2 separate regions of the Homo sapiens genome follow, and region 1 is linked to region 2. Evidence: fine-mapped QTL for protein levels in blood plasma. A gene starts in region 2. The other region holds a variant in brackets. All regions are shown on one strand. Distances are from middle to middle. Region 1 holds the start of LOC112268218 (a long non-coding RNA gene). Region 2 holds the start of NADK (NAD kinase).

The links. PIP is the chance, under the fine-mapping model, that this variant and not a neighbour inherited with it causes the effect. The UK Biobank Pharma Proteomics Project read protein levels with antibody pairs (Olink). The fine-mapping took linkage between variants from a reference panel, not from the people measured, so its PIPs are less certain.
Region 1: its variant is fine-mapped to the plasma level of the NADK protein (UK Biobank, PIP above 0.99).

What each region holds. Positions count from the first base shown.
Region 1 is chr1:1,744,132-1,753,853 of GRCh38, forward strand. It overlaps NADK (NAD kinase), which reads right to left. Exons shown (of 12, transcript NM_023018.5): 11 at 9,436-9,518; 12 at 7,101-8,929. The coding sequence ends at 8,773. LOC112268218 (a long non-coding RNA gene) reads left to right here and starts at 1,688. Exons shown (of 2, transcript XR_002958243.2): 1 at 1,688-1,766; 2 at 5,784-7,611. It also overlaps the pseudogene SLC35E2A. RefSeq lists a silencer at 2,171-2,220 and an enhancer at 8,993-9,522. The variant G/C (reference allele first, on the strand shown) is at 5,043.
Region 2 is chr1:1,776,502-1,787,435 of GRCh38, forward strand. NADK (NAD kinase) reads right to left here and starts at 1,969. Exons shown (of 12, transcript NM_023018.5): 1 at 1,788-1,969. GNB1 (G protein subunit beta 1) reads right to left here. Exons shown (of 12, transcript NM_002074.5): 11 at 10,821-10,934; 12 at 8,785-10,552. The coding sequence ends at 10,830. RefSeq lists silencers at 1,485-2,684, 6,269-6,563 and enhancers at 3,745-3,914, 3,925-3,984, 3,995-4,064, 4,075-4,174, 6,484-6,653.

The DNA.
Region 1 (9,722 bases), 33 kb before region 2:
GCAACCTCAACCTCCCAGGTTCAAGCGATTCACAGAGGACAATTTCTAAAAGGCAAATAAGAAGCAGGAAGGGTGCATGCTCCTTCTCTACTGCCCTGTAACAGTCATTCCACACTTACCACCTCAAAACAACAAATGCTTTTGATGTTGGCTCCTGTGGGGCAGCAATCTGCGGGAAGCTTAGCCAGGCACCTCTGGCTTAAGGTCCCTCCTGAAGCTGCAGTCACACCATGGACCAGGGCTGTGACCTCATCCGAAGGCTCAACTGGGGCTGAGGCCCACCTCTGAGCTCACTCAGGTGGACGCTGGCTGGGTTCAGTTCCTTGCTGGCTATAGGTGGAAAGGGCCCCCACCAGTTTCTTGCCAGCTTCTCCACAGGACGCCCCACAGCCTGACAGGAGCTTTCATCCAGCAAGCTCATCAGGGAGTGGGAGAGAGCAGCCAGGACAGGAGCCCAGGCCTTTCTGAACCTCATCTCAGAAGTGACATCCTTCCCTTCTGCTGTCTGGGCACAGCTCCCCGGGTGGAGCCCGAGGACTAGAAGGAAAAGAAAACTTGGATTTAAAATGGGATAAAGCCATAGGAGCTGCTCGTCCCACCACAGGAATCTCAACGCCGGGTTACTGACAAAGCGTCACTTTGCACCTCGTCCAACTGTGCAGACCTCTCCTAGCCAGGCCCCTGCACCAGAGGTTAAGAATCCGTGCCCCTGGTCAGGAAGTCCAGGTGGGTTCAAACGGCCAGCAGGGAATTTCAGGCAAAATGTGTCCCAAATCTTCAAACCACGCCCCAGAACTCAGACCTCCCCCTGGGAGTTCGTCCCAAGGAAACCACCTGCAAGAGGCTCAGGCTGCAGGGGACACTCCGCTTCCAAAACCCGGAAGCTGGAGACCACACAAGTGCCCAACGCCAAAGGCACCCCGTGGAGGGACGCCCTGTGCCCTCCCCCGACCAGGTGACCCGCTGCGCCCTACACATCTTCACCAGGAAACATCTGTTATCGATGTGGACGAAGCGCAGCCTGCACTCCCAGATCCGCTCATTTTCGTTCTGCCCTCCGTTTTACGATTCGCCTACACTGAAAATGCGTGAGTGGAGTGGAAAGCCTTCCTACTCCTGCCTCAGCGACCCCTTCTAAAATACTGCCTCGTTTGGCCTGAAAATGTGATTTGCAGGCTTCCTGAGCAAAGTAGATTTCACTCCATTAAAGAAAAAAAAAAAGAAAAGGCACCGAACGGGGCTCGGCTGTCGGGAGTTTTGCTTTAGTTTTTTGCGTGTTTTGTTTTGTGTTTTTTTGTTGTTGTTGTTCTTTTTGCGGCCACGCACACCGCGTTCCCAGGCTTCAGGGCGTGGGGGTCGCCGTGGACTCCCGGACGTGAAAACGCTTAAAGCCAGCTGGGAAAACCCCACCAGCGTTTTCCGCGCACAGCGCCAGCCATAGGAAAGGACCCCCAGGAGCGAATCCGGGCAGGGAAACCCCGGACGCCCGCACACTCAGCATCAGTACCGGCACCCAGCACCCAGCACCGAGCACCGAGCACGCAGCACCAAGCACCGATCACCGAGCAGAGCACCCCGCACGCAGAACCCACCGAGAGCCTGATGCAGTCTCCGCCGCAGGCATAGCGCTAGGCCCCGGCGCCTTCACAACAAAGGGACGCTGGCGGGCGGGGCCTAAGAGGTGCGCGGTGGAGGGGCCGGGCGCGAGGCCGCGGAGACAGCTCGGAGCTCGGCACTGGGGAGTGGCACAGCGCTGGCGGATCCAGGTGGGCTTCACGGGGCGCCCGCGGGACCGGAAATGACGCGCAGAACCCTGCATCGGGCTCCTCGCTGCCCCGCGGGCGCCGCTCCTCAGTGCCCCAGAGCCACGGAGCCGGGGAAACGCGCCGCGGCCCACAACGCCCCCGCGGCTGCCCGTTGGTTCCGCCCGAGCCGTTCTACTCCAGGCAGACGGGAGGAGAAACACGGCGCGCTCAGCGTCCCCTGCCCCGTTGGTTCTGCTCGGGCCCTTCCACTGCAGGCCGACGGGGGTGGAAACACGCAGTTTTTTTTTTTTTTTTTTTTAAGGTCTAGGGTAACACGGGGCTTTTAAGTGCCTCTCCGCGGCCGCCTGGTGGTCCAGCCCGGGCCGCTGCAGTGCAGCCACACGGGGAGGGACACGGCGCGCCGAGTGCTCCGGGCGGCCGCACGTTGGTTCCGCCCGGGCCGTTCCACTGCAGGCAGAGGGAGAGGACGACGGTGCGCGTAGTGCATCCCCGTGGCCCGTTGGTTCCGCCGGGGCCGTTCCACTGAAGGCAGAAGGGGGGGGAACCGTGGCCCCACCCCCCGCGGCAGCCCGTTGGTTCCGCCCGGGCTGTTCCACCAGCGGCACTTCAGGGCGGGATCGGCCAGTCTGTGGAGGCAGCGGCCTCTAAGCCCCGGAGGGTTTACTGCCCAGGTTTGGGTTCCAGGAATAAGAAATCCACTGAATAGGCTTAACTTAGAAGACACAAAGGCGCCTCCTGGCGGAAGTGGCCACGCTCCGCCCAGCCTGAGGGAAAGCTGCTCTGACAGCTGGGCCCGGAGCTGCGGGGGGCGGGGCCGCCGCGCGGGGTGAGGACTCGCCTCAGGGCGCTGATTGGCTGGTGGCGCGCTCCGGGGCGGGGCCTTCGTATCCAGGCTGGCGTCGGGGCTGCCGCGGGACATCCGGAGCAGACACCCGCGGGCGCGCCTGCGGCCCCGAGGACCCCCGGCTCCGGAGCTTCGTCGAGCGTTTTCCTAGCGTTACTTTCCCAAATAATTTTCAGGAATGAAGTTACGGCTAAAGGGCTCTTTAGAGATTACTTTTGGGCCGGGCCCGGTGGCTCACGCCTGTAATCTCAACACTTTGGGAGGCCGAGGCCGGCGCATCACGAGGTCAGGAGCTTGAGACCAGCCTGGTATGGCCAACGTGGTAAAACGTCGTCTCTACTAAAAATACAAAAATTGGCCGGGCGTGGTGGCGGGCGCCTGTAATCCCAGCTACTCCGGAGGCTGAGGAAGGAGGATCACCTGAACCCGGGAGGCGGAGGTTGCAGTGAGCCGAGATGGCGCCACTGCACTCCAGCCTGGCGACAGAGTGAGACTCCGTCAAAAAAAAAAAAAAAGGAAGAAAGAAAATTATAAAATGAAGTGAAATTAACGCAGTGGAGTGCCACCTGCCTGCTGCCTGAGTTCACTATCCACACGGAGTTCATAAATTTGAGAGCAGTTTACAAAGTAGATTCTCCTACTTTCCAGGAAACCCAGAAATGTCTGGTGATTTGCCCAACAGTCTCAGCTGTTGTGGTCAGCAGGGCCGCTGTGGTATCCAAATGATTTCAAAAGCAGATTTATAAAAAGTACTCCTTGTTTTTTTTTGAGATGGAATTTCGCTCTCATCGCCCAGGTTGGAGTGCAGTGGCACGATCTCAGCTCACTGCAACCTCCGCCTCCCGGGTTCAAGTGATTCTCCTGCCTCAGCCTCCTGAGTAGCTGGGATTACAGATGTGTGCCCTCACGCCCAGCTAATTTTTATATTTTTAGTAGAGACAGGGTTTCACCATATTGGCCAAGATGTTCTCCATCTCCTGACCTTGTGATCTGCCCGCTTCAGCCTCCCAAAGTGCTGGGATTACAGGCGTGAGCTACCCCACGCCCGGCCTTTATTTTTTTTTGAGACGGAGTCTCACTCTGTCGCCCAGGCTGGAGTGCAGTGGCGCGATCTCGGCTCACTGCAAGCTCCACCTCCCAGGTTCAAGAGATTCTTCTGCCTCAGCCTCCCGAGGAGTTGGGATCACAGGCACCCGCCACCATGCCCAGCTAATTGTTTTGTATTTTTAGTAGAGACGGGGTTTCACCGTTGTTAGCCAGGATGCTCTTGAACTCCTGACCTCATGATCCACCCACCTTGGCCTCCCAAAGTGCTGGGATTACAGGTGTGAGCCACCACGCCTGGCCTCTCAAAGTTTTTATAGCAAAGCCTTACATTTCATGAGGAACCATGCATTTTATTTTATTTTTGAGATGGGGGATCTCGCTACTTTGCCCAGGCTGGGCTCAAACTCAGGGCTCTCTGGCCTCAGCCTCCCGAGTAGCTGGGTCTGCAGGTGGCTGTCACCGTGCTGGGCCTGGGGTGTGCGTATTAATGATTTTGGAATAGTGTCTGGAAGCCTGTGTGCCTTCCTCTCTTCCTCTCCCCAGAAGGACCTCCCACCTCGTCCTCCCAAAGTGTTGGGATTACAGGTGTGAGCCACCATGTCCCCTCTCTTTGCTATTTTGCCTGGGAGGAGTGTATTAATAATTTTAATTTTAAATTTCTTTGATTATGTTCTAGTTTGATTATTGATCATTTACTTCTTAGCTATTTATATTCTTCCTTGAGTCATCGGTTTCTGCCCTTTGACAATTTTTCTGTGAATGTTTTGTGTTGATTATATGAGCTTTGACTGTATTGAGAACATCCACGCATTGTATTATTGCAACTGTTTTCCTAGTTGAGAACATCGACCTGCTGTATTATTGCAAATGTTTTCCTGCTTGCATGTAGTCATTTGTTATGCATATTAATGAATTTCTATCCACATGACGTGGAGTCAGTTAGGAATCAGTTAGGACGCCCTCGCTGTGTGGGAGACTGATGGGTCCAGGCGCTGTGCAAACCCCGCCTCCAAAGTGCATCCTTGGCTCACTGGGACCTTCCGGGTTGTGCTGCTCTTGCTTCACAGCCTCTCTGGGTCTCCCTGCCGTCTGCTGACCTCGGGGCAGGGTCTACCCAGGCTGAGCGGCCCATGGGCTGTGGGATTCCTTTCCTCTGCCTTCAGGTCCTGGATGATGTAGAAGGCAGGAAGGAAAGCAGTCATGGCTAGCTCTGTCCTGCCCCCTTCGGGGTCCCCCCCGGCCCACAGGCTCCTCCTTGTCCCCCAGCCAGCCTCAGTCTGGGTCTGGGCTCCCGCTGGGGAGGAGGGTGAGACCTGCCGGCCCAAAGGAGCTGAAGTTTCCCAAGGGGCGTTGAGGACAGCAGGGAAGTGTGGGGTGTGAACTGA[G/C]GCCCCAGAGAAGGGTCTGTGCCAAGGCCCCATGGGTGGGGAGGAAGAAGGAAGCGTCCCCACCTGGAGACCCAGCCTGCAGGCCACTCGGCCACCTGCGCAGAAGTAGGGGAGCAGCAGCCGCTCATGCCCCTGCAGTTTGTCCTCATCAGCAGGTGGGGAAACTGAGGCCGGGGAGTTCTCCAGGCCAAGGTCACTCACGGGCAAGTTCCCGCAGCCTTTGGACCCTCCATACACGTCAGGGCCGCTCATGCTTTCCTGGGCCCTTCACTGGTTTGGAGGAAGCTTCCTGTTGCCCAGAGCGCACTGCCTGTCTCTGAGTGTATGTGTCTCAGTGGCGTCCATGTGTATTTTTCTCTGTGTGTATCTGTGTGAGTCTGTGTGTGTGGTGTGTTTGTGTCTGAGTGTGTGGTGTTAGCGTGTCTCAGTGGCGTCCATGCATATTTTTCTGTGTGGTGTGTCTGTTTGTGTGTGTGTGAATCTACGTGGGTGTTTGTCCATCTTTTTGTCTGGCCTCCTGTCCCCTCTGCACAGAGCAGCTGGGTGGGGATGCTGGTCCTGGGGGCTTGTCAGCAGGATGTGGGCGTGGGGCAGCCCTGGGTGAGGCCTGAGTACAGGCCCCAGGTGCCTCCTGCACAGGGGTGGCTGAGCCAGCTCCTCTGTGGCTCCCGGGTCCCCACCGCCGGTCACTGGGCACCACCTGTCCTGGCCACCCACTCCTGCCCACCCTGCTCTCCGCAGGGGCCTCCTTCCTCTTTCAGCTGTGCGCCCTGGTTGTGGAGGCTCCTAAGGAGGTTGTGGCCTCGGTTTACCACCTGCCTTGGCTCCTTGGTGTTGCCAGACCCTGAAGGCAGCCCATGCCCTGGCTGAGATCCTTCTGGGGCGGGATGTGCTGGAAGCAGCTGAACCACGTGGTGATGTACCAGCTCCTGCTGTCCCCTACATCCCCAGCACCGCCAGCCTTCCCTGGGCTCCTCCGGCCGGCTCCTCTACCCTGTACCCGCCCCACCCTGCTACCACCCCCCAACCAGACTTCCAGCTCCAGGCAGGGTCGCAGCCTCCTGGGCTCCCAGCAGGACAGGCCTCACCCAGACCCCGCAGGAGCCATGGGACTTGGGCTGGGTCTTTGGGCCTGGCTGCAGCCCCTTTGGACCTGACCTGAGGAGACACCCTGGCTGTGGGAGGCAGGGTGGGGGTGCCGGGCCCAGCACAGAGGTGCCCAGGGTGCAGGCTGGCACTGGCCCGGCAGGGACCGTGGATGCCGCCGTTTCAGGCTCGAAAAGGTTTCCATGCCCCAGAGCCTGAGCCCGGCAGCCCCCGAGGATGTCTTGGGGACTCTGTGCTCCCCAAAGCCGAGAAGGTTAGGCTTGACCCACAGCCTCTTCCAGGCCGGGGAGGCAGAGGCGCTCCAGGTCGGTAGGGCGGGGCCCACAGCCCAGGGTTTCACGTCCCCAAAACGGGGCAGGGTGCTGGAGGCGCAGGTGTCCACAGGGTGGTCGTTTTGGTCTCTCCTGGACTTGCACGCGTGTAGTGCAGACTGGCTGCCGGCAAAGCCCTGAGCCACATTCATCTGGGCCTTGTTAGGACAACAGGGACGGTGCGGGGTGGGGGGGTTGCGGGGCGCAGGACCACGTCAGTGGAGGGAGGGAGGCCGATATCGGTGCCCAGGCTGGGCCCAGGGGCCAGCGGGTCCTCACCTGGCTTGTGGCTGCCCCTGTTAGGCAGCCCGGATGGAGGGGCTCTTCCAGCCCTGCTGGCCCCGGGAATGCAGGGACTCAATTCCCCCTGGTCTCAGTGGCTCTTCCGGGAGCAACACAGCCTGCCCGAGTCGACACCACCCCTCGGGTTTGAGTCCCTTCTGTCTACCCCTACCCCCGCCAGGGCACTGCCCCCTTGCCCGGAAGAGGCAGCGGCACCCCCAGCCCCTTGGGGAGGATGCCCTGCCGGCCCCACACTCGGTGGATGGGCATTTTGGGGCTAGGATTTAATGGGGGTGACCCTGCCCGACCCCTCTATGTTGGTTCCACGGCGTCAGAAGAAAGCTGTTATTAACCCAGCTTATTTTCTACAAGTCTTGTTTATTGAAAGGATCTGAAAAGCGTAATAAGGCTTTCAATGACATTTAATACATTTTCAAGAAATTAATATGAAACATTAAAATTTACTTCAAAAATCCAAAGTTTTCTAGATCATTCCCATCTCACGCTGCTTTAGAGGTCAGTTCACACCTTCTGTGTTCAGATGAGCGGCTGGAATTCTGAACACTGCCGTCTTCCAGCCCTAACGCTGGGCGCTGGTCCCTCTCTCCTAAGCCCACGGCTGGGCTTCCCCTGTGCCCAGGGTCATGGCGGACTTCAAGCCAGGCCGGCTGCCCAGAATCACACTCAGGGTTTTTGGACGCTCAAGTCCACAGATGCTGAGGTGCCCAGACGAGGGTGAGCAGGGAGACACATGCCTCGGAGAACGTGCCCAGGCTGGGCCAGGCGGCTGCGGGAAGCTCCTCACGGGCAGAGGAGAACGTCTTGTGCCTTCCTTATCGATCTCCAGCAGATGAGGGCAACTTCGTGTGCAAAACTCAGAGAGCAGTTACTCAAAAAAAAGACACCCGGGCAGCAGTAACCAGGACACCAGGGTCCGACCACGGCCTCCACACACCTGTGCCCGTGGAAGACGCGGGCGCCGGGGTAGGCAGCATCCACGTGCTCCACAGCTGCCGGTGCTGGGCAGGCTGGAGACTCACGGGAGAGGCAGGAGGAGAATCAGCGTGTTGAGTCCCTCGCTGTGTTAGTGTGAAAAATTCTCATTACAGTTGCAAATAAAAGGGATCACGATCACTAGCCCCGGAAACCCTCATCTCCCGGACCATCAGGATCGCACTGAACAGAATGGTCCCCTAATGGTCCCTGAGGACAGCGTCTTGCAGAACATAAATGTAAACATTGAATGGCAGACGACTCCCTTCCCCTTGAAATCTTCACAAAAGTGTGTACGAGAAAGTATGTACATCAGCACTTCAGAAAGTTTAAAAGAGTCTCTAAAAAGTATATACAGGATTTAAACTACCTTCCTGGGAGCAGAAGCTACGTGAGGAATGTGTGGGTCGCTGGCGATGCCAGCCCCCTTCCCGCTGAGTGTCCCAGACTCAGTGCTGGCCTCAAGCGGGGAGGGCTGGATGGCAGGGGACGCATCCAACCCTCTCCAGAAACTGAGCAGAACAAAACCGCCTTGCCAGCCACTGGCAAGACCATGCTTTCAATGGCGCCTCCGCCAGGGGCTTCCCTGCAGAAGTTTTAGGGGAAGAGGTGCAGGTCAAGGGGAAAAGCATGGCAGCTCAAGGAAGGTTTTTGGCTGAGACATTTATTATCAACATTGAAGGACAGGTCGAGTCATTCTGACTCCTCTGAATTTCAACCGACTGATTTGCGGAAAAATATCCTGGCATGGAAATTGCGGCAGCTGGAGGCCGCGCTCCAGGGACCCACCGCGGGGTGTCAGCAGGACAGAAGCACTCCCAGCCCATTTCTCACGCTTCTTTAGAAATGCAAAAAAAGTCAGACATTTTAAAAAAACAGCTGATCTGGACAAAAGGCAGACCCAGGCTCTAACCCAGCTACAGAAAGGAAGTGGCCGTGCCACTGAGACAGGCGGTCACAGACACACGCAGATTGGTCTGTCCCCAGAGGGCGCTTGGAGGGCAGCGGAAGGATTCGGGCCTGGATAGGGGCTTGACCTAGCCCTCCTCCTCCTCCTCCTCCTCCTCCTCGAAGTGGGCTTGCTTCTTCCGGACGTTCCAATGCAGGCACTGGGCGAGGCTCTCAAACCAGTCGCTCACGGGGTCCCGCACACAGATGGAGGGGAGCGGGTAGCATGAGGTAGTGATGCTGATGCTGGGACGGGAGAGCAGCAGCCTGAGCCAGGGCTTCCAGAAAGGCCCACCCCCGGCCAAGAACCCTTCCTCCCTCCCTCCCTGGGAATGGCCGGGACTCTTTTCCTGTGGGGCCGGGCAGCCCCTCCCCGAGGCAGGCTTGAGCAGTGCCCCATGGGTGCTGGGACAGAGCCATCCCAGGTCCTGGAGGGGACGGTGCAGGGAACTGACAAACTCTGCCCCAGGGCCCTCAGGGGTGAGGTCCCAGGAGGTGGGTGGGGGTGGGCAGCAGTGCCAGGGGGGACACCCTCAGGCCTCTGCTGGGGCCAGGCCTGCATGTGCCACCGTATGCGACCCGCTGCCCCCAGGACGGGTGCCCCGACTGTGATGCTGCAAGACCCAGGGACTCAGGCCCTGTGGTGCCCTAGGGGACAAGCTGTGTCTACAGGCCAACCGCAAGAGGGCAGGCGCTGCCTGGCCCGGGGAGGAGGTTGGCAGGCAGCGCCCAGCCCGGCATGCAGCCCACACCTGTCTCCATGGCGGATCTCTTGTCTCTTCCGTCCATCAAAGGACACCCATGCTGTGTTCCTTGCTTCAGGTGACAGCATGATCTGAGGGTCAAGCAGGGAGAGGTGTGGGCCCCCAGCTGTGGGGAGGACGCTTCTAGGCACCCACCCCTGAGTGCTCGCCAGAGGTCGAAGGTTGGGCAGCTCTGACCCTGCCTTGCGGACGGTGCAGTGCACGTCCTACAGGCACCGGCCCAGCTCAGCACCGCCAGAGACCAACAATGGCAGAAAGCCCCTCAGACCCGGGCC
Region 2 (10,934 bases):
GTGGTGGCTCACACCTGTAATCCCAGCACTTTGGGAGGCCAAGGTGGGCTGATCACGAGGTCAGGAGTTCGAGACAAGCCTGGCCAACACAGTGAAACCCGTCTCTACTAAAAATACAAAAATTAGCTGAGCGTGGTGGTGGGCGCCTGTAATCCCAGCTACTCAGGAGGCTGAGGCAGGAAAATCACTTGAACCCGGGAGGTGGAGGTTGCAGTGAGCCGAGATTGTGCCACTGCACTCCAGCCTGGGCAACAGAGCTAGACTCTGTCTTAAAAAAAAAAAAAAAAAAAAAAGACTGGTCAAAGTGGCTTACGTCTGTAAGATCAGCACTTTGGGAAGTGGAGGCAGGAGGATCTCTTGAGGCCAGGAGGTTGAGACTAGCCTGGACAACACAGTGAGACTCTATCTCTACAAAAAATTTTATAAATCAGCTAGGTGTGGTGGTGCAGGCCTGTAATCCCAGCTACTCAGGAGGCTGAGGTGGGAGGATCAATTGAGCCCAGGAATTTGAGGTTACAGTGAGCTATAATCATGCCACCATAAACACGCCTGGAGGACAGAGTGAGGCCCTGTTTCTAACATACACACACATATACACACAGAAACATCTCGAGAGGACACCTCCAAATGATGAAGCTATTTTGTTGGGTACTGCGGTGGCACCTGTGATTCCTCAAGTAGCTTGGAATCAGCGTGCTAACACCATAAAGTGGCTGCAAAAGTCCCAGTGAAGTCACTGCTGAGAGCAAACAGGCCTTACAGAGAAGTTCCAAGGGGACAGGAAATTTCCAGAGGCTTGAGAGGACAATGTTCAGGGGAATAAGTACTTGAAGGGAATTATCTAACAAGGTGTTAAAGTAACTAGCTTCTTAGACAAGATGACATCAGGAGGAAAAAAAAACTTATTAAGGCAAACATGTCAGTTTCAGGCCAACTAAGGCTGTCAGAGAGACATGGAACACAAGAAGAGAAGAGTTTTGAAATGTATTCCCATCAAGAGCCAAGAATAATGAACTTTTGAATGTAAAACTTAGTGTGTTCCAAAACAAGAAAGGAAAAATAACTTGTTACTCGGAATCGAAGCCAAAAGGAATCTCATTGCTTGGGGAGGAGGGATGGGAGGGTGGGGGTGGTCCTTGGCCTGGGAAGGAAAACTCCACCAGGCCTTCGGAGCTGGGCACGCCCTGTTCCCACAATTAAGAAAAAAAACGACGACCTAGAGCTCAAGGCCGGTGCTGACATCTGACCTACTGGATGGCAGCCGCCTGTAGGAACATCACCATAGACTATTGGAATTTTCTGGCAAGTACTGGGCACTAAATCAGAGATGTGTTTTTAGAGAATTCCATGCCAATACTGCTGTATAGAATCTTTTATTCATACTTTCCCACTAGGTTTGGGCCCCTCTAAGCTTTCACGAGTCAAAGACCCCTCCTGCTTGCTGAAACCACCCACGGAAGGCCGGACACCGAGGACCTGGCCGCCCAAGCAGAGGCGACTGACAAGCGCGGTCCGGGCTGGACGGCCCCACCTTCCCCGCCCGGGAGAGCCAGGCCGGACAGCGGCCTCCCTCAGACCCGTCCCCAAGGCCGAGCCTCGCCCTGGGCCGTGCTGGTGCCCCATTCGGGACGGAGCGGTGGCCCGTCAGCACTTCCACGGCCTCCTCAGCAGGCCAGATGGGCAGGGCCGGCCTGGTGTCTCCCCGCCTGGCCGCGCGCTCGCGGGCAGCGATGACCCCAGGCAGCGGGCGACCCCAGGCGGACGGCAGGCCGGGTCTGCTCACTCACCGTTCGCTGCCGCGGGCGCCTGCGGGGGCGTCTACATGCCGGACCGAGCCCGCAGGCCCCGCCGCCGCGCCGCCGCCAGCCGTCGCTACCTGGCCCTTGGCGCCCTGGCCGCCTGTTGCCCCATGGCCGCCCGGACCCCGGCGCCGGCGCCGCCGAGCAGCAATGCGCCGCGCCCGCCCACTGCGCAGGCGCACCCGCCACGCATGCGCGCTGCCGCGCACGTGGGGCGTCCCGCGCGTCTGCCGGGTCCCACCGGCGCCGGGACACCCCGCGCGGGCGGGAGGCGGCGGGCGTGGCGGGAAAGAGGCGGGCGGTGGGGAAGAGGGGCGAATCGCGGTGGAGAGCAGTGACCAGGGAGTGGAGGCGGGCAGCGGGGACAGGGGCGGGCGTCCGCGACTCGGGTAGGCGGGGGTCGGCGCCCCGAGGAGGGCGGCCCCCGGCTCCCGTCCCCACTCACCTGCCGCGTCCGGAGGGCGCCCCCGGGTCCGCCCGCCACGTCTACGCCTAGGCGCCCCCGACATTGTGATCCCAGCCCGGCGTCCCGCCCCCAACTCACCGCCACCGCGGGCGGGACCTCCCGGACCACGTGGGCCGGCTCAGGGGAGTGCAGGTGCCCCGCGAGAGCTGGCCCCGCCCGCCGCCGCTTCCCTAATTACCGGGCTGTGACACGGTGTGGGCCGAGCCGGATTTGGGAACCGAAACTTAGAGCAGCTGCGGCAGCGCTGCGCTCCCTCGGGGCTGTCCGTCGGGGCTGGGAGGGCGGCCCTGCGCCTGGGGGAACCGCGATCGGCCTCACGCCCACCTCTAGCGGCCAGGTGCGCCTTGCACGCCCACGAACGTCCTCAGAGGTCTACGCTTGGGATCCCAAGGCTGGCAGTGGAGGGAGGACCCGGTGGCCTGGGGCACCTCTAGGGGGACCAGGGAGCCGTGTTTTGCGCACCCCACAGGCTGGAGGACTCGGGGAGTTGGGGGAGGAGGCCAAAGCCACAGGAGCGGACTTTGTAGTGTTTGTTGGAACTGCGGGTCCCACCCAGCCCGCACTTGCTGAACTGGTGGCTGCTCATCAGCGCCTTCAGGCCTCAAATATCCCAATAATGTGCCCTATACCCAGTTCTCAGCTCTCGAGTCACTGTCAGGTAAACTGGCAATGCACGACCAGCTGCTCTAACCTGCTGGTCCCCCAGGTGCCAGACATTGTTTTGTTTTTCTGAGATAGTGTCTCATTCGTCCCCCAGGCCGGAGTCCAGTGGCGGGCTCACGGCTCACTGCAGCCTTGACCTCTCAGGTGCAAGCGATCCTTCCACTTCAGCTTCCCTAGTAGTTGGGACTACAAGTAGGTCCCGCCACACTCGACTACTTCATTCATATATATATATATTTGTGTGTGTGTGTGTGTGTGTGTGTAGAGATGAGGTTTTACCATTTTGCCCAGGCTGGGTCTCAAACTTCACCCGCCTCGGCCTCCCAAAGTACTAGGATTATAGGCGTAAGCCACTGCACCTGGCCCAGCCATTGTTTTCTGAGGTTCAGTCCCTGTCTATACTTTCTGTGTGATCACCTGGCCCAGGGTCGGTGTGGACCTGAGTCCTCTGCAGCCCTTCCCCACACCCGCATACCTGCTCTCTGGTCAGGACTCCTGGGACTTGAATCCAGAGACACGGAACACGGCCTGGCCAAGTCTTCCTGAAAAACACAGCTCTTCAGTTCAGGACCACAGTGAAGTACAGGGCACCAAGGGTGACTGGAAAGGGAAGCAAGGATCATGAGAACTTGGGGGATTTCTTAAGCTCTGTAACTTCTCCCGGGGTTATTTTGCAAACCCAACTGTTTCAAAGTGACCACCAGCCACACCCACAGAAGCGGCCTTGAGCTGCCCAGTTCTTTTTCTTTGGCGGGGGGAGAGGGGGCGGATAAGATCATTAACATAATAATGCGTGAGCTGAGTTTTTGCATATGATCATTAGCATAATAATGCTTGATCTAGATGGCGCACCCACAAGCCAGGCACTGAGCCAGGCCTCAGTAGAATCTTCTAGAGTGGAGGCAGTCAACTGCTTCTGCAGAGGCAACCAGTGACTGTCGTGGGCCCCAGGTCACACAGCAGGTGCCCTTCGCGTGTCCCGCTGTGTAGGGAGCTCCAGCAGCTGCCCCGTCTGTGGCATGAAAACCCTTTGTCTACCCTGGGCCTGGGCACTGCCTGCAGGAGAGCTTCCCTGTTTCAGAGATGAGAAAACAAAACCAGGGCTGTGGTTTCCTTCAGCTGACAGGTTGTGCAATTTCTCAGGGCAGGCCCCGGATATGACCTTGAAGATTCAGGGGCCAAGATCTCACACCCACACCTCACCCCAGGCCTGGCCAGCAATAACTAAGACCAAAGCTGGGAAGGCTCCTTAGGGCACCCAGAATGGTCCAAGAGGCAGCTTTGCTTGGGCTGAGACCAAAGGGAAGAGATGTTCCCGCAGCAGGAACAGAAGGGTCCAGGGCTATCATGGGGGCTTCTGCCAGATGGTGCACAGGAAGAGGCTCTGCCTTCAAGGGATTGGGGGTCAGGAAAGGCCCCCTCCTGCCTGACCAGGCCCCAGGGATGGGGCAGCAGTGGGTGGCATCCCCTGCCCTGACCTTCCTCAGCCCCAGGGCTGCCATTGCTCAAGGTGGCAGTGGACTCTTCACATAATTTCGCATTGTTTTTTGTATTCTTTAAGGATGGCTCCCATGTTGTTTACTTCAGAACCCCCAAAACCTGGACCCATCCTCTTCTGGGGGTCAGCAGGGATGGGGAGGGTGGAGGGAGAAGGGGGAACGGAGGCCATGAGGGATGGAGCAGGATGGGGTGCACTGGGGTACAGGTTGCTCCTGGGGAGGCTGAGGAGAGAGGGAAGTTGGCTTCAGGTGGCCTGGCTCCAGTAAACTGGGTGAACGAAGTCTGCCCAGAACCCACAAGGGTAAGTGGCCTGGAGCCTGGGGAAAGGATGACTGGGAAGGACTGAGGCTCCCAGTGAAGGACATCAGTATGGCAGGCTATCTGGTCATCTCATCCAGCCTCCAGCCAGCACCCGGCACAGGCCCTGCCCAGGCTGAAAGCCAGGATAGGGGCGTCTGCAGGGGCCAGTGTCTGGATCTGCTCACATGACAGTCTTCTGTTTGGCCTGGTTTGGGGCGAGGGGCAACCTCTTTCCCAGGATGCCAGCCATGTGCAGGGCATACTGAGGATTCAACAGTGGAAACCAAAGTCCATCAGGTGTTCACCTTCTAGTGGGGCAGACGGGCAAGAAGCAGAATTGGTGGGGGCAGGCAGGGGTTGGGGTACAGTTTTGACCAAGGTACCCAGGGACAAGTGTTTCTCTCTCAGGCAGAGGCAGCAGCAAGGACCAGGACCCTGAAGTGGTGAGAGCCTAGAGTGGGCGGGGATCATCAACAGTAACCACCTGGCAGGACTGGGACTCCCTGTGTCCTCACAAGATCCTTACCAAGCAGCCTAGTATAAGACGAAGTCTCGCTCTGTAGCTCAGGCTGGAGTGTAGTGGCATGATCTCAGCTCACTGCAAGCTCCGCCTCCCGGGTTCAAGCCATTCTCCTGCCTCAGCCTCCAGAGCTGGAGTTACAGGCGCACACCACTGAACCCGGCTCATTTTTTGTATTTTTAGCAGAGACGGGGTTTCATCATGTTGGCCAGGCTGGTCTTGAACTCCTGATCTCAGGTAATCCATCCACCTCGGCCTCCCAAAGTGCTGGGATTACAGGCGTGAGCCACAGCGCCCGGCCACAGCCTGGTACGTTTATTGTCCACATTTTTCACGCGGGGGCCAGAGGCACAGAGAGGCCAAGTAACTTGCTCAAGGTCACCCAGCGAGGAAAGGGAGCTGGGGGGTGGGGGTAGGGGACAGGGCGAGGCCAGAGAGTAGTGGGAGGGGCCGAGGCGGCCTTTCCCGGGAGCGCTCGGTTCCCGGCCGGCCCTTCTATTGGCCCCAGTCACTCAGGCTCCCAGGTCCGGCTCGGGGGGGAGCGGGGGGCCGCGCCAGGCCGCTGAAGTGTCCCCGTTTCGCGTGGGCAGAGCGCGCCTCCCCACGCATCCTGCTGAGGGCCAGCCTCTGCTAGGTGCGTGACACGGAGGGGACAGAACGGAAACCTTGTCCTGCTCAAGTGTGGACGTGCGTGCCACGTGCTAGAGTAAAATTGAGGTGGGGAACCTCCATCCCTGGGACATGGAGCACAGGGGCGACCCCGCGCCGCTTGGTCAAAGGAGGTCCGAGGCCCTGCAGGAACAGCCCACAGCCGGAGCGAGCTGCAGGTCACTCCACTGCCTGTGTCCACCTGCGACAGGTGCGCCCGCGCAAGCGGGGCGGAGCCAGGTGACCCGGACACAGGAAGCGCGCCAGGGGCCCCCACACCGCGGAGCTGCTGGCGACAAAGGGCGCTGCTCCTGCATAGGCCAGGCTAATGCAATCTACAAACTAGATTTCTGTGCCTACAGTTTGAAAATGATTGCAGTTCACTCAGCCAGTGTGGAATTATCCTCCTCTTTCCACACTGCCTTAGTCAGTGCCGCTGTCCAAGTGCACGTTGTTGGCGCCCGTTTTCATTTCCTGTTTTGCTAAGAAAGTGGGGCAGTGGCCTCCATGCCCGCCAAGGGACAGGCAGGCCGCCCCAGGGAGGGGTCCCCCTCAGCTCTGGCTCTTCCAGGCCAAAGCCAAGGGGAAGGGGCACCAGAGGGTCCCAGGTCCCACATGCCAGCTCCCTCAGTCTGCGGGGTGCCAGGCTAGGACACAGAAGCCAACAGGAATCCCCAAAGGGAGGAAGTGGAGTCGGGGGTGTGGCAGCCGTGCTGAGATGCTCGGCCTTTATTTACTCTGGGCAGGGACCAAGATAGGCCACTGCAGGCCGGCACCCTGCCTCCCGGCTGCTGGAGCCCCTCCCTCCCAGGAACTGCCAGCCAGGAAAGAGCCTCAGGTACTCTCTGCATTTAATTTTTAATTTTTTTTTTCTTTTGACGCCTCCAAGACAAGTTCAACTCTCTAGTGATTTTAAGTGGGGTTTTTGTAAGACAGCTGGCAGGGTTAGGGCTTGTGAAGAACTTGCATGTCTATGAAGAACTGATTTATTTCAGGGAAAAGTGGGGGATGACGAAGCCAGGCGAGCCCACCCCGTTCAGCCTGCCAATCACACCCACTTCAGCAGCCTAAAACAGCACCAGGTCACCCCACCAGGGAGACAACGCCATAGTGTCACTTGCAGTGCTGGCAGATGGGCACCCTTGGTGGCGTCAGAAACACACCCAGCACCTTGCCTGGAGCAGGGCGGCTGGGCCCTGCTCCGTGAATCCCAAGTGCCCTATGGGAGCCTCTCCGGCCAGGGACTGCCAGCCTAGAGGAGGGGCTGCTGGGTTCTCTGGTGCCCAGGGGAGGAGGGGGCCTACAGGTACTTTCTGCTGAGAGCCTTCTTCACTTACTAGGAAAAAGTTTGGCTGGGTGCGGTGGCTCGGCCTGTAATCCCAGCACTTTGGGAGGCTGAGGAGGGCGGATGACAAGGTCAGGAGATGGAGACCATCCTGGCTAAGATGGTGAAACCCCGTCTCTACTAAAAATACAAAAATTAGCCGGGTGTGGTGGTGGGCACCTGTAGACCCAGCTACTCGGAAGGTTGAGCCAGGAGAATGGCGTGAACCCAGGAGGCAGAGCTTGCAGTGAGCCGAGATCGCGCCACTGCACTCCAGCCTGGGCAAGAGCGAGACTCCATCTCAAAAAACAACAACAAATTAGCCGGGCATCTGGGCCAGGCGCGGTGGCTCACACCTGTAACCCCAGCACTTTGGGAGGCTGATGTGGGTGGATCACAAGGTCAGGAGATCGAGACCATCCTGGCAAACATGGTGAAACCCTGTCTCTACTAAAAATACAAAAAATTAGCTGGGCATGGTAGCAGGCGCCTGTAATCCCAGCTACTTAGGAGGCTGAGGCAGGAGAATCGCTTGAACCTGGGAGGTGGAGGTTGCAGTGAGCTGAGATCGCACCATTGCACTCCAGCCTGGGCAAAAAAGAGCGAAACTCCGTCTCAAAAAAAAAAAAAAAAAAAAATTAGCGGGGCGTCGTGGTACGTGCCTGTAATCCCAGCTACTTGGGAGGCTGAGGCAGGAGAATCACTTGAACCCAGAAGGCAGAAGTTGCAGTGAGCTGAGATAGCGCCACTGCACTCCAGCCTGGGCCACAGAGCGAGACTCCACATCAAGGGAGAAAAAAAAAAAAAGTTCCAGCTGCTGGAGCCATGGGAATTAAAAAATTACTTTTTTTTTTTTTTTGAGAGGCAGTCTTGCTCTCTCACCCAGGCTGGAGTGCAGTGGTGCGATCTTGGCTCACTGCAAACTCCGCCTTCCCGGGTTCATGCCATTCTCCTGCCTCAGCCTCCAGAGTAGCTGTGATTACAGGCGTGTGCCACCATGCCCAGCTAATTTTGTATTGCCTATTTAAGATTTTAAAAAATCACCAGTTTGGAAAGCAGGGAAGTGGATGGTTCTGGAGCCTAGGAGCGGCTATTTGGGACACACACAGCCATGGTTTTCCACACTACCATGGCCAGTGCTCATTTTTTTCTTACTAGATGCAGTTCTTTATATTCAGACCAAGAGGAACACTCAGTTCAGTCCCAAGGAAAGCTAGTCTCTGGAGTAACATCCTCAGACATTCTAAGGGAGGGAAATGGCAGAGGAGAAAGGCAAGGCAGCCGCCTGTGGAGACTCCCACGGTGCTGTGGGCAAGGCCTATGCCTGGGGAGGGGTCTGGGCGATGGCAGGTGGACCTCCCTGCTCTGCTGGCCTGTGAGGTGGAGCTTCCCAGGAACCCCTCCGAGGAGCCAATGCGCCACTCATGGATTCTGTGACGTGGTGGCGGCCATGGCACCGCCTGGCATGAGCAGGCCCGTCAGACCTCACAGCAACAGGGACAGCTTAGGGAAGCGGGCGCGTTGCAAACTGGAAGTGGACCCGTAAATAATCACCACACCAAAGTCCCTCATGTCAAACTGCTTTATTACATCTTAAATAACAGTACAGTTTAATATAGTATCTATCTTGCATCCAGCTTCCTTGCAGTACACTGACTTTAAAATTAAATACAAAAGGTGGAAAGGGGTAAGGGTGCAGAGAGCTCTACAGAGTTGTTGGACGGAAAGAGAAAGAAGGGGTTTCATTTGTATTCTCTTTGCCAGATCCAGGCCTACCGCAAGGTCACAGCACAGTTTTGTATAGAATGTTGCAGAAAACAGGATGGAGAAGCCACTACTGCTGCTATGAAGGAGTGCGGGGGGCGGGGCGGGGGGTCCCACAGAACCTGCTTTCCAAACGCTGCTGCTGAACACTGGCCTTGAAATGAACACCAGGACAATCTGTGTGTGATGGGAATGAGCCACCTCAGATGTGGAGGGCCCTGAAGAATCCATATAGGAGGGCAGGCTCTTCACTCCCTCTCCCTCCCTCTCTCTCCCTCCCCACCCTCAGAATCCAACAGCAGTCGTTTGCAACAGAACTTTTTTTTTTTTAAAGAAATAAAGAAAACAGTGACTTATCCCGCTACCCAAGCGTGTAGAGCCGCGCGCTGTACTGCTTCCGATATGTGCCACAGAGCAGCAACGAGAAGTGGACAGAGCCGCAATGGTTACAACTGTAAGAGGTTATTTCTTAAAAGAAAAAGAACACCTAAGGACTGAGTCCCATATGCACTTTTGAGCATTTCTACAGCATGCGATTCTAAGAGTAAACCCACCCAATATGGCAAACAATCAAAATTTTTAAAATTTAACTTAGAAAGTCTGAGATCATTATTTTCAAAACATTGATTTGTACATTGTTTCATACACAAATAATTGACTGACTATCCAAGCACAGGACAGGCATCTCTCTTGAAAACAGAGGTTCCTCCTAGTTGGGGGTGGGGTAGTGTTAGGCTATTATAAACTTCCCTCCAACTTCACAAGGAAACCCAAAGTGAGATTAAAAACTCAACTGAGAAGATAGACAGGATGGGTCAGGAGGAACATGGTGCTGGATCTGAGCTCACTTTTCAGCAAAGGTGAAGGATTCTCTGATCACGCATTTGAGACCGTCCCCGCATGTGCTTGGCCCCATGGCTTCTGAACATGTTCTTTTCTATGCCACGTTTGTGTGCAACAATGATCTGTGACATCAGACAGAAAATTAAAAACCAGGGACTGAATTTACATCATTGACAACATCAGAGAGGCTGCCCTAGACTCTCTGGTTTTGATTAACTGTTGAACACAAAGGAATACATTTTAAAAAGGAAATATGAATGCTTCCAAAATCTTGCTACAAACATGACTGAAATTTGGACACGATGACCAGATGAACAAAGCCCTCAGCATGTTTTGCATGAATGCCACAAAACAGGGTCACTGGTCTAAAATTCAAATACACTGGTGGAAAAGTGTGTCTGTCTGACAATTACACTCAAGTTTACCTTCTGGTTAACATTTTTATTATATATTTCCTTTTAAAATTCATTCAAGACAAAAAAGAAAACAAAGACGATGGCCCCGGAAGGAATGCACAATTTGTTTTAGTTTACAGCACAGAGATCTTTCTCTCAATGGGAATTGTGCTCTTGGTTTCAGCAATAAGTGAAGGAAAAAAGATCTTGCCCTTTTGAAGTTCTGAGGGGAGGTGTAGGGTGTCCACGTTAGTACGGTTGGATAGGATATGCTCTCATGGTAACGCGTCCAAGTTGGAATGGTCTTCCAGTCTCCATGGCATCCACATGCTGTTTTAAACAGAGTTTAAAGAAATGTGAAAAGAGGCAGAGAATCTAAGTGCAGACGCACAGCCAGGTCACTGCTCTTCCCATCACTGCATGAGTGTCTGCAGCTGAGGGCACGTGACTTCAGCTTTCTGTAAACGTTTCCCACAACACAATTCCAAATCAATGCTACATCAACATTTATCTAGAAACCGTTAATGACAACTTCAAATGTTCTATGAGAAACACGCACAGTTCTCCTCAGAGAAGGGCATTTGGGCTGCTGCATTACCTACTGGCGTTAGTTCCAGATCTTGAGGAAGCTATCCCAGGACCCTGTCGCCACAGCCATGCCATCGTCAGTCACGCCCAGGCAGCTGACGCGGTTGTCATGCCCAGCCAAGAC